Regions from separate parts of the Homo sapiens genome. Here region 2 is linked to region 1. A link means that fine-mapping ties the variant in region 1 to the expression of a gene that starts in the linked region. Tissue or cell type: gastroesophageal junction. Region 1 holds a variant in brackets; the other region holds the start of a gene. All regions are shown on one strand. Distances are from middle to middle.

Region 1 (8,000 bases):
AAAATCTTTCAAGAAATTTCCTTATTACCCAACTAAAGAAACTAACATGGGCCAGGTGCAGTGGCTCACGCCTGTAATCCCAGCACTTTGGGAGGCCAAGGCGGGCAGATCACCTGAGGTCAGGAGTTCGAGACTAGCCTGGCCAATATGATGAAACCCTGTCTCTACTAAAAATGCAAAAAATAGCCAGGCGTGGTGGTGCACTCCTGTAATTCCAGCTACTTGAGAGGCTGAGATGGGAGAATTGCTTGAACCCAGGAGGCAGAGGCTGCAGTGAGCCGAGACTGTGCCACTGCACTCCGACCTGGGTGACAGAGAGAGACCCCTTCTCAAAAAAACAAAAACAAGAAAACAACCAGACAGGCAAGAAACCTGGCAAGACTTAGGAACCACCATGTCATCCAGGGGAAGGAGAAACGGGCCCTGTCCAGCTCTTCTGCCTCAACCACACTGGGCGTACAATTCAATTCTGGCACCAACTACCCCATGCTACGGGCTCAGTCCTCCATAGAAATGCTGCTGCAGAGGTCCTCCCACTACCCACACTTCTGACCAACTAGTAACTAATACAGGAGGTTTCCACTGCACCCTCAAGTTTGTTCACTAGAATGACTCACAGAGCTCAGGAAAGTAAGTGCTCAAATTAGGATTTCAGTTTTATTATAAAGGATACATGTAGAATGGGGTCTGGGAGGCAAGGCAGTTTCTGTGTCCTCTCCTTGAGGAATCAGGGCTATCTCCCTCCCAGCACATGTGTTTCCTAACCTGGCAGCTCCACTGAACTTCAGTGTCCAGAGTTTTTACTGGGGTTTCATTATGTAGGTATGATTGACTAAACCACAGGCCACACAATATAGCTCAGTCTCCAGCCCTCTTTCCTGCCCTCCTTGGAGGTCTGGCTAGCTCAAAGTCCCAACCATGTAGGGACTTGGTTTGGTCTTTCTGGGGGACCATGCTCCATCTTGAAGCTATCTAGGGACCCACTGCCAGTCACTTCATTAGCATAATAAAGACACTCCTACTACTCAAATTCCAGGGTCTTTAGAAGCTCTGTGCCAGGAACCTGGAAAAAACATCAAACAAAAAAAAAATTTTTTTTTTGAGACAGGGTCTTTCTCTGTCACCCAGGCTGGAGTACAGCGGTGCAATCAAAGCTCACTGCATCCTCAAAATCCTCGGCTCAAGTGATTCTCCTGTCTCAGCTTCCTGAGAAGTTGGGACTACAGTTGTGTGCCACCACACTCAACTGACACTTTTTTTTGGAGATGGAGTTTCTCTCTTGTTGCCTAGGCTGGAGTGCAATGGTGTGATCTCAGCTCACCACAACCTCTGCCTCCTGGGTTCAAGTGATTCTCCTGCCTCAGCCTCCTGAGTAGCTGGGATTACAGGCATGTGTCACCACACCTGGCTAATTTTGTATTTTTAGTAGAGACGGGGTTTCTCCATGTTCATCAGGCTGGTCTCGAACTCCTGACCTCAGGTGATCTGCCTGCCTCAGCCTTCCAAAGTGCTGGGATTACAGGCGTGAGCCACTGCATCCAGCCAACAAATTCTTTATTATGCAACACCAGCACACATAATCTGGACACAGGGAAAAGTCACTGGGCTTCATGAGGGCCTGGAAATATGCCCCCTCAACACATGACTAGACCCTGTGATCTTACTCTCAACCTCTGCACACTTTCTAGCTATCTTCAGGGACCTAGATGCTAGAAAGATTGGGCCTCTCAGAAAATACTGATGACTAGCAACCATTTCCATTTGGTAAATAAACTAGCATTCTGTTTATAGTTTAAAACATTTTAAAGCAGAGACATGTATAATTTCTAAAAAATCCATTATATGAACAGGTGCAAGTTTATAATCTTTTGTATATTTGAATTTTTAAAAACAATACTGATTTTTAACAATATTATTCGCATACCATTCACATATGTAAAGTGTGAAGTTTACATTTTATATTCAGAGTTGTATAAGCATCACCACAATAAATTTTAAAATATTTTCAACACCTCCTCCCAAAACTCCATACCCATTCCCATTCCTCTCCCTCCCTGCACCCAGTTCCTGGCAATCACTAGTCTACTTTGTCTCTATAGATCTATTTTCTAGACATTTCCTAGAAATGGAATCATGTAATACATGGCTTTTGTCACTGGCTTCTTCCATGTAAGGTGTTTTCAAGGTTCATTTATGCTACAGCATATATCAGTACTCCATTCCTTTTTATGGCTGAATAATATCCCACTGTATATGGATATACAATATTTTATTGATTCATTAATCAGATGATGTGCATGTGAGTTGTTTATATCTTTTGGCCATTATGAATAATGTTATAAACATTCATGCACAAGTTTTTGTATAAATAAATGGTTTCATTTCTCTTGGGTATATACCTGGGAGTCAAACTGCTAGGTCATATGGTAACTCTAGCCTTTTGAGTAACTGGTAGACTGTCTTCCAAAGCAGTTTCACCATTTTACACTCCTACAGCAGGGATCCAATTCCTCCTCAACCTCATTAACACTTCTTTTACTGTGTTTTCATACAGCTATCCTAGTGGATACAATGTAGTATCTCTTTGTGGGTTTAATTTGCATTTTCCCTAATGGCTAATGATGCTGGGCATTTTTTCATAAACTCATTGGTTATCTGTATATTTTCTACAGAGAACTGTCTATTCAGATCATTTTCTCATTTTTAGATTTGGTTATCTGCCTTTTTTATTAAGTTCTAGAAGTTATTTATATATAGATACAAGCCCCTTACCAAATATATAATGTGCAATTATTTTCTCCCATTCCACAAGTTATCCTTTTACTTTCCTAATAATGTTATTTAAGCAAAAAAGTTATTAATTTTGATGAAGAACCACTTATCTATTTTTTCTTTGGTTGCTTGTGCTTTTGGTGGCATATCTAAAATAACACTGACTAATCCAAGGTCATAAAGACTTGCATCTATGTTTACTTCTAAGAATTTTATAAATTAGCTCTTAAGTTTGGGTCTTTGATCCATTTTGAGTTAATTTTTGTATATGGTTTGAGGTAGGGGTCCACCTACATTGTTCTGCATGGAAAGATCCAGTTGTCCCACTACTGTTTAAAAAACTATTTGTTGGCCAGGCACAGTGGCTCATGCCTATAATCCCAGCACTTTGAGAGGCCGAGGCAGGCAGATCACCTGAGGTCAGGAGTTCGAGACCAGCCTGGCCAACATGGTGAAAACCAGTCTCTACTAAAATTACAAAAATTAGCTGGGCATGGTAGCATGTACCTGTAATCCTAGCTACTTAGGAGGCTGAGGTGGGAGAATCGCTTCAGCCTAGGAGGCAGAGGTTGCAGTGAGCCAAGATTGTGCCATTGCACTCCAGCCTGGGTGTCAGAGTGAGACTCTGTCTCAAAATAAAACAAAAAACAAAAACAAAAACCCGATGAACATGTACTGTTTTAATAAAATGTATGCACATATATGTATGTATACACACACTCTCACATTTTATATAATTAAAATTATTGTAATATAAAAGATTAAACAAGATTAAATAACCTGCCTAAGATTAACCTACCAGTAAAAGAAATAGACCAGTATCTCTCCATGTCTGGCCTGCTCTCCCAGGGAGTCTCAAGCTCTATTGTCTTTTCTATTAAAACTCCCATTCTCTAAATAAAAATGTCTCATTCAAGTATTCTGTGTTACTCAGGGTGATAGAAATTCACATGTGAATAATATCTGCTGCTTCTCTACAAGAGTTCAGTTATTACAAATGACAAATATGTAAACAATGAATTATAGATACTGGATGCTAGGAAAAAAAACAAAAAGAATCCTCTCTAGCAGGAAGAGGAAGAAAAGGGACATCAGAGAAGGCCACCCAGAAATAAGGTAGTTGGCTCACCAAAGATGGAGAGGAGGAGGGAGCTCTGGGTCAAAGACTAGGTGATGAGATGGAGTACCACAGCAGGAGCAGTCAGGTGAGCACAGCTTTGCTTCTCTCAGTATGCATGAGCCCCTGGTGCCAAGCAACTAGCAACAGTAGCAGCAGCATCTGCTTGAAGTGGGAACAGGGAGCTTGGGCTGGAAAAGTGGGCCATGTTCTGAATGGGTTGGTGAAAGGTTACAGGAGCAGACAGCCTCCACACCCAGGCTGCTCTTGGCTATACAGGCTACCTCCATCCCTGAATGTTGTAATAGGAAAGTCTAAACACACAGAAGAGGAGCACAAAACCAATAATTATCACACATTCAAAATAAAACTAATCCATAAAGAAAAGTACCAAACTCAACAAAGACAGCAATGCCTGAAAACACTGGGCTGTATCAGCAAATAGAACAAAGAAAAATAAGCATAATTAAAACAGTAGAAGGTGAAGGATAATTTTTAAAAATTAGATATCATATTCTGATTATTGAAATAAAAAACTTAGTAGAAAAGCTTAACTGAAGAAGAATCAAAACTGAAGAAGAACCCAGACAGTTATGAAAATGAAAAAGCAAACCAAAGACTGGGAAAAAATATTTGCAAAACATAAAATAAATGACTCACTCCTATCTAGAATATATGAAGAACTTTTACAACAAAACATATTACTTATTTTATTTTAGAGACAGGGTCTCGTTCTGCTGCCCAAGCTGGAGTGCAGTGGCACAATCAATCATAGCTCCCTGCAGCCTCAAACTCCTGGGCTCAAGCAATCCTCCTGCCCCAGCCTCCCCAGTAGCTAGGACTACAGGCACATACCACCGTGCCCAGCTAATTAAAAAAAATTTTTTTTGTACAGAAGGGGGTCTTCTTAAGAAAATTTTTTTTTTTTGTAATTTTACTAGAGATGGGGTTTCACCATATTGGCCAGGCTGTTCTTGAATTCCTGACTTCAAGTGATCCTCCTGCCTCGGCCTCCCAAAGTACTAGAATTACAGGCGTGAACCATCATCCCCAGCCGAGAAGGGGATTTTGCTCTGTTGTCCAGGCTGCTCTCAAACTCCTGGA[C/T]TCAAGTGATCCTCCCACCCTGGCCTCCCAAAGTGCTGGGGTTAGAAGTGTGAGCCACCGCACCCAGTCCAAGACACATTTTTTGAAGCAGGCAAAAGATCTGAACCGAAACTTCACCAAGATGTAAGGATTGCAAAAATAAGCCCATAAAAAGTGTGTTCCAAATCATTAGTCACCAGGGAAGAGAAATCAAAACTATAATGAGCTCCACTACATACCCACCAGAATGCTAGAAATTTTAAAGACTGACCGTACCATGTAATGACCCAGAAGTGGAGCAACTGAAACTCTCACATCCTGCTGGTGGGAATGTTTTTTGTTGCTGTTGTTGTTTTTAAAAAGAAAAAGAAAAGTTTGACAATTTTTTGAAAAGTTAGCAACATGCACACCTACCAAAAGATCCAGCCAATCTACTTCTAGATATTTACCCAAGAAAAATAAAAGCCCATGTTCACACAGTAGGGAAATGTGAATGTTCAGACACTTTATTTATAATCACTGAAAACTGCAAACAACCCAAATATCCACCAACAGTTGAATTAATAAATTTGGCTATATCCATACAATGCAATACTATTCAGCAATAAGAACTGTGGATACACATGGAAACACAGATGGATCTCAAAATAATTATGCTAAAGAAAAAAGAGGCGGGACGCAGTGGCTCACGCTTGTAATCCCAGTACTTTGAGAGGCTGAGGCAGGTGCATCACCTGAGGTCAGGAGTTAGAGACCAGCCTGGCCAACGTGGTGAAACCCAGTCTCTACTAAAAATACAAAAAATTAGCCAGGCATGGTAGCGGGCACCTGTAATCCTAGCTACTCGGGAGGCTGAGGCAGGAGAATTGCTTGAACACGGGAGGCAGAGGTTGCAGCGAGCTGAGATCACGCCACTGCACTCCAGCCCGGGCAACAGGGTAAGAGTCCATCTTAAAAAAAAAAAAAAAAAAGAAAAGAAAGAAAAAAGAGACAATAACATGCACAGGAGCTGTCATCTCCTATGAGACCCTCCCCCCAAAAAAAACATAAAGCATGATTCCACATACAGACATACACCACGTAACATTTCAGTCAGTGACAGACTGCATACACAACAATAGTCCCATTAAGATCATAATAAAGCTGAAAAATTCCTATGGCCTAGTGATGTCGCAACACAATGCATTACTCACGTGTCTGTAGCAATGCTGGTATAAACAAACCTACCAGTCACATAAAAGTCTAGTATGCAACAACTGTGTACAATGCATAATACTTAATAATGATAATAAACTGCTATGGGTTTATATATTTACTATGCTATACTTTTTGTTGTTATTTTATAGTGTACTCCTTCTACTTACAAAGTTAACTGTAAAAAGCCTCAGGCAATCCTTCAGGAGGTATCCAGAAGAAGGCATTGTCATCACAGAGGACAGCCCCATGCGTGTTGCTGCCCCTGAAGACCTTCCAGTGGGGCAAGAGATGAAGGTGGAAGACGGTGATACTGATGATTCTGACTCTGTGTAGGTCTAGGCTAATGTGCATGTTTGTGTCTTAGTTTTTAACAAAAAAGTTTAAAAAGTTAAAACTTTTAAATAGAAAAAATGTTATAGAATAAGGATATAAAGAAAATATTTTTATGCAGCTGTACAATGTGTTTGTGCTTTAAAAGCTAAGTGTTATTAAAAGTATATAAAGTCGCTGGGTATGAAGGCTCACACCTGCAATCCCATAGCTTTGGGAGGCTGAGATGGGAAGATTGCTTGAAGCCAGGAGTTCGAGACCAGCCTGGGCAACATAGCAAGACCCCATCTCAATTAAAAAAAAAAATTGTAAAAAGTTACAGTAAGCTAAGGTTATTACTGAAGTAAAAAAAATTTTAATAAATTTAGTGTAGCCTAAGTGTACAGTGTTTATAAAGTCTACAGTAGGGTACAGTAATGTTCTAGGCCTTCACATTCACTCACCACTCACTCACTGCAACTGTAGTCCTGCAAGCTCCATTCAAGGTCAGTGCCCTATACAGGTATACCATTTTTTATGTTTACATGGTATTTTTACTGTACCTTTTCTATGTTGAGATATGTTTACAGACAAATACTTACCATTGTGTTACAATTGCTAACAGTATTCATCCAGTAACATGTTGTACAAGTTTGCAGCTAGGAGCAACAGTCTATACCATATGGCCTATATGTCTAGAGGGCTATGCCATCTAGATTTGTGTAAGTCCACTTTATAATGTCTGCACAACAATGAAATCAATGAACACAGCTAAGCACATTTCTCAGAAGGCATGGCTGTATTTAATACAGACTGTCAAAAAGCAGATTTTTGCTTGGAGCCTGGGAAGGTAAGAACAGAGATGGGTTACAAAGTGCCAAGAGGGAATGTTTGGGGTGATAAATGTTCATTATCTTGATTACAGTGACAGTTTCATGAATACAGCATATGCACACACATATACATGAGTGTATACCAAAACTTCAAATATGTGCAGTTTATTGTATGTTAATTATACCTCAATAAAGCTGTTAAAGACAAACAAAAACTTAACCTCAGGAGAACTGGTCAAGCTGAAGAAAAATTCAGTGAGCTAAAGATCAAGTCAGGTATTCTATGACAGTGGGCTAACAGAGAAGGAGTATATGAAAAATTGTTGAGACATTGGGGAGAGAACCAGAAATACAAACAAATCTAATAGGAACTCCACAGGAAAAGAGGGTGGGGCAAGAACTCTCAAAGAAATAACAAGCTTGTGTCTAGATTGGAAATGTTAAAAAATACTGGAAAACATCCTATACCTAGAAATAAAAAGGTAAAATTTTAGAACATCAAGAATAAAGAGAGCTGGGTGTGGTGGCTCACGTCTGTAATCTTAGCACTTTAGGAGGCCAAGGCGGGTGGATAGCTTGAGATCAGGAGTTCGAGACCAGCTTGGCCAACATGGTGAAACCCCGTCTCTACTAAAAATAAAAAAATTAGTCAGGTGTGGTGGTGCGTGCCTGTAATCCCAGCTACTCGA
Region 2 (8,115 bases), 990 kb before region 1:
TAATGTGTGTTTACAGACATCAAAAAACACTGAATTTTTTTTTTTTTTAGATGGAATCCCACTCTGTCGCCCAGGGTGGAGTGCAGTGCCGTGATCTCGGCTCGCTGCAACCTCTGCCTCCTGGGTTCAAGCGATTCTTGTGTCTCAGCCTCCCGAGTAGCTGGGATTACAGGCGCCCATCACCACGCCCAATTAACGTTTGTATTTTTGGTAGAGACAAGGTTTCACCATGTTGGCCAGGTTGATCTTGAACTCCTGGGCTCAAGTGACCTGCCCACCTCTGCCTCCCAAAGTGCTGGGATTACAGGCCTGAGCCACCGTGCCCAGTGTGAACTAACTTATGAACATTCCGGATTTTTTACAAGATGAGTACCGCACTATGGAATAAATGTGCAATGGATTTACACGACATTTTCAGACGTTTACAAGGTTGATGAGTGAATCAGAGATTAGCTGACAATGTTGACATATTGGGCCCAGCTAGATACTAGCATTGTGTAGCAAGGAATGTTTGAGTGGGGCCTAATTTTATAAGTGGTCAGTTCATTGGTGAATATTTTCATATTCCCATGATGCTGATTCTCTGTGCAACCTGGTAACAGCAGAGGCTGGATAATAAGGATCAGTTCACCCACCACTCCACTTTTTGTTTTAAAGAATCTACCCACAGGGCTTTTGTTCTTTTTCTCTCTCCACTTTTCTACTGCCTGTGGGGGTAGCTCCTTGTCCATTATACTAATTCTGTTATCACACAAGTCCAGAAACTGGTCTCACAGAGATGGACCTTACATATACCTTCAAAGTGCACTTGAGTCTTGATATGGTTTGGCTGTGTCTCCACCCAAATCTCACCTTGAATTGTAATAATCCCCAGGTGTCAAGGGTGGGACCAGGTGGAGGTAATTGAATCGTGGGAATGGTTTCCCCCATGCTGTTCTCCTGGTGGTGAGTGAATGCTCATGAGAGCTGATGGTTTTGTAAGGGGCTTTTCCCCTTCTCCTATCACCCTGTGAGGAGGTGCCTTCTGCCATGATTATAAGTTTCCTGAGGACTCCCCAGCCATGTGAAACTGTGAGTCAATTAAACTTCTTTTCTTTATAAATTACCCAGTCTCGGGTATTTCTTCATAGCGGCGTGAGAACAAACTAATAAAAGTCTCTCAATTTTAACACATCAACTTCTCAGGACATTTAAGGTTTATAATTTTGGTCAGAACTGTAGTTCCAAGTCAAATATGTGTTTTTAAGAGCCAATAATATGGGTTTTAGTAAATTCTAAAATCACATGGTAAAATCAATGTCTTATGAGTGTCAACAACAGAATGATTGGTGTTAAAATCCTAACTCTTTAGTGAGCATATGAACACAGTCATCAATCTATAAATTAAGAAATGGCTGTGTATTTTAGTTCAAATAGTTTCCTATTTAGGCACATTTAATACTTTGTTATTTATTTTAAATTTTGAAAACTTAGCTTAGTCCTGAATGAAGTATTTTCTGGTTTACGAGGACTGCAAATCATTACCAGAAAGTGAATTGAGCAATATTTCCCTTTATAATTTAAAACTATGACTTTCAAATAAACAATTATCTAAAAACACTTATGCTATTAGATAGCATATTCTTGAAATGCGTGCAAAATCAACAACCATTTATTCTCCTCTTCCCTGTTTTAAAGACATTTTTATTGGGTTGAGAGTGTTTCAGGATATAAAGCAGTTTGCCAAATTCTGTCACCCTTTTTTTTAATGTCATAAAGGGTGTGGTGCCTGTAGAGAAGTTTTGAAAGTTGTACTTTATGATGTTTTTGCCTTCACTTTTTAAAAAAATGGTAAGATAATCTAAGTCCTGTCCGTATATTCTGGTTCCTAGTATAGGCTTCAGGGTGCACTCACTATGAAAAGTCAGAATATTTCCTGTAGCCAGTTTTACTTACTTCCTTGCCAGGAGTGTTTAGGTTCTTTTTTTTTTTTTTTTCTTTTTTGAGATGGAGTCTCACTCTGTCGCCCGGGGCTGGAGTGCAATGGCGTGATCTCGGCTCACTGCAACCTCCGCCTCCCGGGTTCACGCGATACTTCTGCCTCAGCTTCCCGAGTACCCGGGATTACAGACGCACACCGCAACACCTGGCTAATTTTTTGTATTTTTAGTCGAGGCGGGGTTTCACCATCTTGGCCAGACTGGTTTCGAACTCCTGACCTCGTGATCCGCCCGCCTCGGCCTCCAAAAGTGCTGGGATTACAGGCGTGGGCCATCGCGCCCACCCGTGTTTAGATTCTTAACAGCTCATTATTAGAAATAAAGTCTCGATAAGAACTACTTTAATACTTAATTTTCTTGCTTAGAAAGGTGAAAACAATTTAGAAGGAACAACGTGAGGCATCAAAGTTAAGCTGTATCTCCCATAGCTGGTGATTATTAAAAATCTCTATGAATCTAGTCTGTTCCTGTCATTCTTTTATTAATCCCTGGTTATTGGGAAGCTCTTAACAAAATAAATGTTTAAAATTATATTTCTGTAATTAAGTAAAAGAGAGTATTGATTCCACAAGGCTAGAATTGTTCGTCTAAGAAAAACGAATTCTCCGTAAATTTTAACCCGTTAATACCACAGAAAGATGCTGTTGGAAAGGTCTAAGAACAGAGAGATGCAAGCAGAGAAACACCATTTTCAGAACATGACATGGGATGGTGAGATTTGCTGATTTGGTTCCGTCTTCATTATCTGACATTTAATGACAGTTCACACAGAAATCGCTCGCCTGAAAACCCGTGTTTAAATCCCGGCACAGAGACTGTCTTCCTTGTCATTGTCATACCAGTAAAAAAAAGAAAAGTATCTAGAGAGAGAGAGAGGAGAATAAGCACAGAAGTTAAAATACAATAAAATCCCTTTTCCCTTTCTTTCCTTGGATCTGGGTTTTGAAGGAGACAAAGAAGGACCCCCAGGCTTTCCAGCAGCCAGCAAGCGCTATTACTTTTTATTTAAAAGCAACTGGGAAAAACATTCCCCAAAGCAAAACCAGAAGCCCTCCCTGAGAATCGTCTCTGGGCGTCGGGGCCCGGGCCGCTGGGGTGCCACTCCGCAAGGGGTTCCTCTTCTCCCCGGGGTCCCTGAGGGCTGGACGAGAGAGGACCCGTCGGTCCCGGGGTGCCGGGAGGAGACGTTCGCCCGCCCCACGAGAGGGGGCGGCTCTGGCCTCGGAGCCGCCCCTCCTGCCGCCGGAGAACAAACGGGATATTCAGCAGTGGCCTGTGGCTGCCAGAGCAGCTCCTCAGGGGAAACTAAGCGTCGAGTCAGACGGCACCATAATCGCCTTTAAAAGTGCCTCCGCCCTGCCGGCCGCGTATCCCCCGGCTACCTGGGCCGCCCCGCGGCGGTGCGCGCGTGAGAGGGAGCGCGCGGGCAGCCGAGCGCCGGTGTGAGCCAGCGCTGCTGCCAGTGTGAGCGGCGGTGTGAGCGCGGTGGGTGCGGAGGGGCGTGTGTGCCGGCGCGCGCGCCGTGGGGTGCAAACCCCGAGCGTCTACGCTGCCATGAGGGGCGCGAACGCCTGGGCGCCACTCTGCCTGCTGCTGGCTGCCGCCACCCAGCTCTCGCGGCAGCAGTCCCCAGAGAGGTAACGCGACCCCTGCCCGGGCTCCCTTTCTCTCCTTTCCCTTCCTCCACCCCTGCAGCCTCGCCTGCTGCTTTACTCAACCCGCTTCGGCGCGCCTGGGTGACCCAGCGCTCGACCCTGCGCTCCCGCGCGGTGCAGGCGTCCGCCACCCTCGGGTAGGCTAAGCCCGGGACTTCGGGACCCATCCTTGCTCGCGGGGCTCCCTCCTGGGTCCCCAGCCCGGCCTGCCGGATGGCCCTGCAGCTGGCTTGGCCACCACGTGGCGGGGCTTAATCTGACTTGTGTCTCCCCTCTCCTCGTGTCTATGGGGCCAGAGGGAAGCACTGGGGCCCAAATATGTGGATTTTGGTTTACCGCTGTTTTTTTTCCTTCCCCGAGAGGCTTTGCCCAGAGACGTAAACTAGGGAACAACCCTAGCGGCGCGGCGCCTAGGGAGCCGCTCCGGAAAGTTAACTCTTCGCCAACCTCTGGAAGGCCCCAGGAGCTGGGCTGTGGGACCTGCCCGGTGGCCAACTTTGGCATCACCTCTTCAGCCTCCATCAACATCAGCCTCCCTTTCGATGGGAAGCTCTGCCAATGGCGAGTGATTTTCAGAAAGGGGGAGGAGAACTGGGCATCTCTCCAAATATGGGAACGACAAACTTTTTTTATATTAACCAATTGCTTGCCTGTCTTTCTTTAAAACCATGCTTCTCATTCAGCCTGGCTCTTACCTTCTCTCCCACTCCCCCAGTTAAATTGATGTATTTACCATTTTCCTACAAGACTTTGCCACAATGCCGAGGACTTGATTATACATATATATAATCTTGTGTTATTATGATGGAGACAGATGGCGCTGGACTGAATGCTTTGTCAGGCTATAATTTAAATATTCTAGGAGCTAGCAAATTTTCAGATCCCTTATATGGTGCAAGCATTGATTAATCAACATTAACTTTTATTTATATTAATAGGCTACACCTTTCTGAAGGTAACATCAGATTGTTAGACCATGTTTCAAATTACATTATCTTTTCTTCTTTTATGTTCCCAGACCTGTTTTCACATGTGGTGGCATTCTTACTGGAGAGTCTGGATTTATTGGCAGTGAAGGTTTTCCTGGAGTGTACCCTCCAAATAGCAAATGTACTTGGAAAATCACAGTAAGCATTTTTTAAAAAGGTATTCTCCTGGAAGTGGGTGTTGGCAACAGTGTGAGGCTGCTGCCTTTTTCCTCTGGTGTTAGGATTTGAGTAAGAGGCAAATGCCTGAAATAGTGAAATGTTGGATTTACCCCAACTATTGGGAAGATTTTTATTAATATAATAGATCTAGTCGTGTCCTGCATTAGTGATTACAAAGGGCACAAGATAATGCTTGAAGGAATAAATTCTCAGAGCAGATGTGTTTCTGAAAGCCCAGTGTGACTCAGTTGAGTTTTATAGATTCATAATTAAAGCTGTTTTCAGTCAAAGGCCTGTTGTAATGACCTTCATAAGTTTTTTGTTGCTCGTGCCTTCATAAATTCCCAGTGGGAAATGGAAGATCAAAGATAGTGCTTTGACTACTCTATGCTCATTAGGAAAGGAAAAAGAAAAAAAATAAAAAAAGCCCACTTAATGTTCCTGGGTTGAAACCACCTCTAAAGGCAGTCTAAGAATAGAGAATGGGGGGGTGGGAATCTAAATAGCAGCCAAGGGCCAATAAAAAGTCCATGCTGATTAGTAATAACATAGATTATGCTGAGTCAAGATAAGCTGGATTTAGAGACAGCCATATATTTTTTAACTGATTTAGAGTCAACTAGAGTGAGTCATCTTTCCAGTCAGCATAGCATTGACTGTTACCTTCTTCACTTTTTCGTTGTTGGGAAGTTGTTTAGTAATTGAATACGTTGGTTCACTGAGAGCTTCTTTCAGTCAGATTGTGCCACTGGAGGACTTAGATTTTTTAAAAAGTAGCCCCCACTGAATGTGTAAACTAGCAGTTACTGTGTGCCAGGCATTTACCATGCCAAGTAGTTAGCAAGTATAATCACCCAGAATCCTCAAAACAACTGTATGAGAAAGTATCTATTATCATCCCTATTTTATAGATGGGGAAGCTGAGGCCTGAAACAATTATAGAAATTGACTTGATCAGACAGTCGGGAAGCCCAACTTTATGTAAAAGTAAAACCTACTTTGCAATAAGGTATTCCCACTGAGGTCATTTTGCAGGCAGATATGAGAGGTCCCCTTCCATAATATAAAACTCAGCTCTTACATGCCTTGACGGCCTCTTGTAAAATGCCAACCATGTCACAAACTGGTACAGATTTCATTATGTTATTATAGCACATGTGGCCAGGAAAGAAGTCATAGAAAATAAGTTTGAAATACTATTAACATAAATGTCAAATAAGTCTCTGAAACAAAAATAAAAGCAGCTTGATTTTCATGTCGTGATTGTGTTTTAAATGTAATTAAATGGCCATAAGTTTTAAACGACCCTAGAAAATCAATGGCTCAGAGGCGTCATGTGCCCAAGTAGAAATTCATGGTTGGCCATGTGTTCTGAGTATTGCGGACAGGTTGATGTGACTTTACACTTTGACTGGGGTTGGGGGGCACGTCCAGTGAAAGCTTTCCTTGATAAAGGAACGGTTTGCCTCAGGAGAGGCATGATTTCCTGTGTGGGAGTGGGGAAGTTAAATGGATGCTCCATCTGGATGTCCTGTGAAGGGAAAGCCTGTGAGCTCAGCAGTCACTTCCCTGGATTCAAATTCCAGTTTCACCGCCATAAACTGTGTGTCCAGGATCTACCTCCTTTAAACCTTAGGATTACTGTGAAGACAAAATGAGATAGTGTAAAATGCTTCAACTCAGTGCCTGAGTGGGAAGAAGCTTGATTTGTCTGAAGAACAAATTAAGGAGGTTGGAGTGGCTGGAATGGAATGAGCAAGGGGACAGTGGGAAGAGAAGCGAAGAAGGTAAACAGGACTCTGTAGGCCACGGTGGAGAGTTTGAATTTTGTTTTGAGTAGGAGTCACTGGAAGATCTTAAGCAGAGGAATGAGCTTATCTGGTGTCTGCGTGGAAGATGAACTGTAGGGAGTTAAGAGTAGAGGCAGAGAGACCAATTAGGAAGCTGTTGTGGTATCCAGGAGAGGGAAGATGGTGGAGTAGACAAGGTGGTAGCAGAGAAGATGAAGAAATGCGGAGTCTTCTGCCCACAGTGTTTTCTCAGCAGCTCTGCCTGCGGTTAGGATATAGTGGCACCAGCTAGAAGGATACATGCACCAGGCTCTGTCTCCCTGCTTAGCCATTCCAGACAGGACTGTGCTCTACTATGGCCTTGTCCAAGGCCATCTATTAAAGGTTTTTCCCACGCTGGTTGGTCCAGCCCATTTTTCTGTTCCTGCAGTCAGTAAACCAAGAATAGTGTTCCCATTGAGTGATTCAGTATCACTTTTATTAAAATATCACAGAGGCCGCTGGAGATGGGAAAGCCTCAGAGTGGTCCTTAAACTGTAGTTCCTGTAGCTGGGGGGAAATATCTTGCTTTCACTCACTGGCCTCCCATTCTGTTCGTCCAAACTGGAGATGTGTCCCAGCATGGTAGCTTTCACCGCTAAATGGTTTTCATTAAACTCTATCATATCAATGCAAGAATGGGAAATGTCTGATTTTAACTTTTGCTTTAAGAAAGGTGAATCCTAGTTGTTACCACCAAACTTCCAGTCCTTCGTGTTGGACTTTCTGATGCGAAAGTACAGCCTGCAGATTGGAAATTTAGATGTGTCCTTACATTATAGTACTTTAAAATTTTTATAGCAATTTCTTAGACAGCTGCATTGTTCCAACACACTGTATTGGCTATTTAAATGTAAATTAAGTTAAACATTTAGTTTCTTAGTCATACTAGCCACATTCAAGTGCTCAATAGCCACATGTGGATAGTGGCTGCCTTACTGGACAATATGTAATATAGTATTTCTGTCATCACAATTTTTCTTGTGGACAGTGCTGTGCTATTAATAGAAAAATTTTATGCTTAATTTTACTCACGTAAAATGTTGAGGACAGAGGTGCTCTGTGCTGCTTAGTTGTACTTCTGCTTTGCAAATAGGGAAGCTGCTACTGGTTCTTTGTAGTTGTTGGAGCTGTAACTGGAACTCAAGACTCTTGACTCAGCTTTATCACCAAGAGTTGATGGCCTTAACAGGTCTTAGGTTTTTTACTTTTACTGTATGTGTTCTCAAAAATGTATGCTTAGAGACTAAATTAGAGAATTTGGGTGTTAAGAAATAGTTGAATATTTTGTAATCCATGATGGGGTTGAGAGTTTCTTAGTTTACTGTAGGAGTTGATTCTGGGGACTATAACCTAAAAGGCATCTGCATAAAATCCCCTAATTCTCAAATACGGGGACGTGGGTATGAGTTAAATGTGATTTGACAGCTAAGGTATATATAATCCTTTGGAAAGTAGTGACTGGTCTTCTAAGCAGGCTTGGAAGAACAATAGGGTTGGGGTG

What was found. PIP is the estimated chance that this variant, and not a neighbour inherited with it, causes the effect.
Region 2: PCOLCE2 starts here. The variant in region 1 is fine-mapped to the expression of PCOLCE2 in gastroesophageal junction (GTEx, PIP 0.96).

The regions. Positions count from the first base shown.
Region 1 is chr3:141,893,132-141,901,131 of GRCh38, reverse strand. All of the region lies in intron 1 of ATP1B3 (ATPase Na+/K+ transporting subunit beta 3), which reads right to left. Among named protein-coding and RNA genes, the nearest start is that of ATP1B3, 20 kb to the right of the region's middle. The variant C/T (reference allele first, on the strand shown) is at 4,994.
Region 2 is chr3:142,884,315-142,892,429 of GRCh38, reverse strand. It overlaps PCOLCE2 (procollagen C-endopeptidase enhancer 2), which reads left to right and starts at 3,347. Exons shown (of 9, transcript NM_013363.4): 1 at 3,347-3,616; 2 at 4,653-4,761. The coding sequence starts at 3,534. It overlaps LOC124909443 (a long non-coding RNA gene), which reads right to left and starts at 4,166. Exons shown (of 2, transcript XR_007096122.1): 1 at 3,971-4,166; 2 at 1,663-2,839. RefSeq lists a silencer at 3,355-3,404.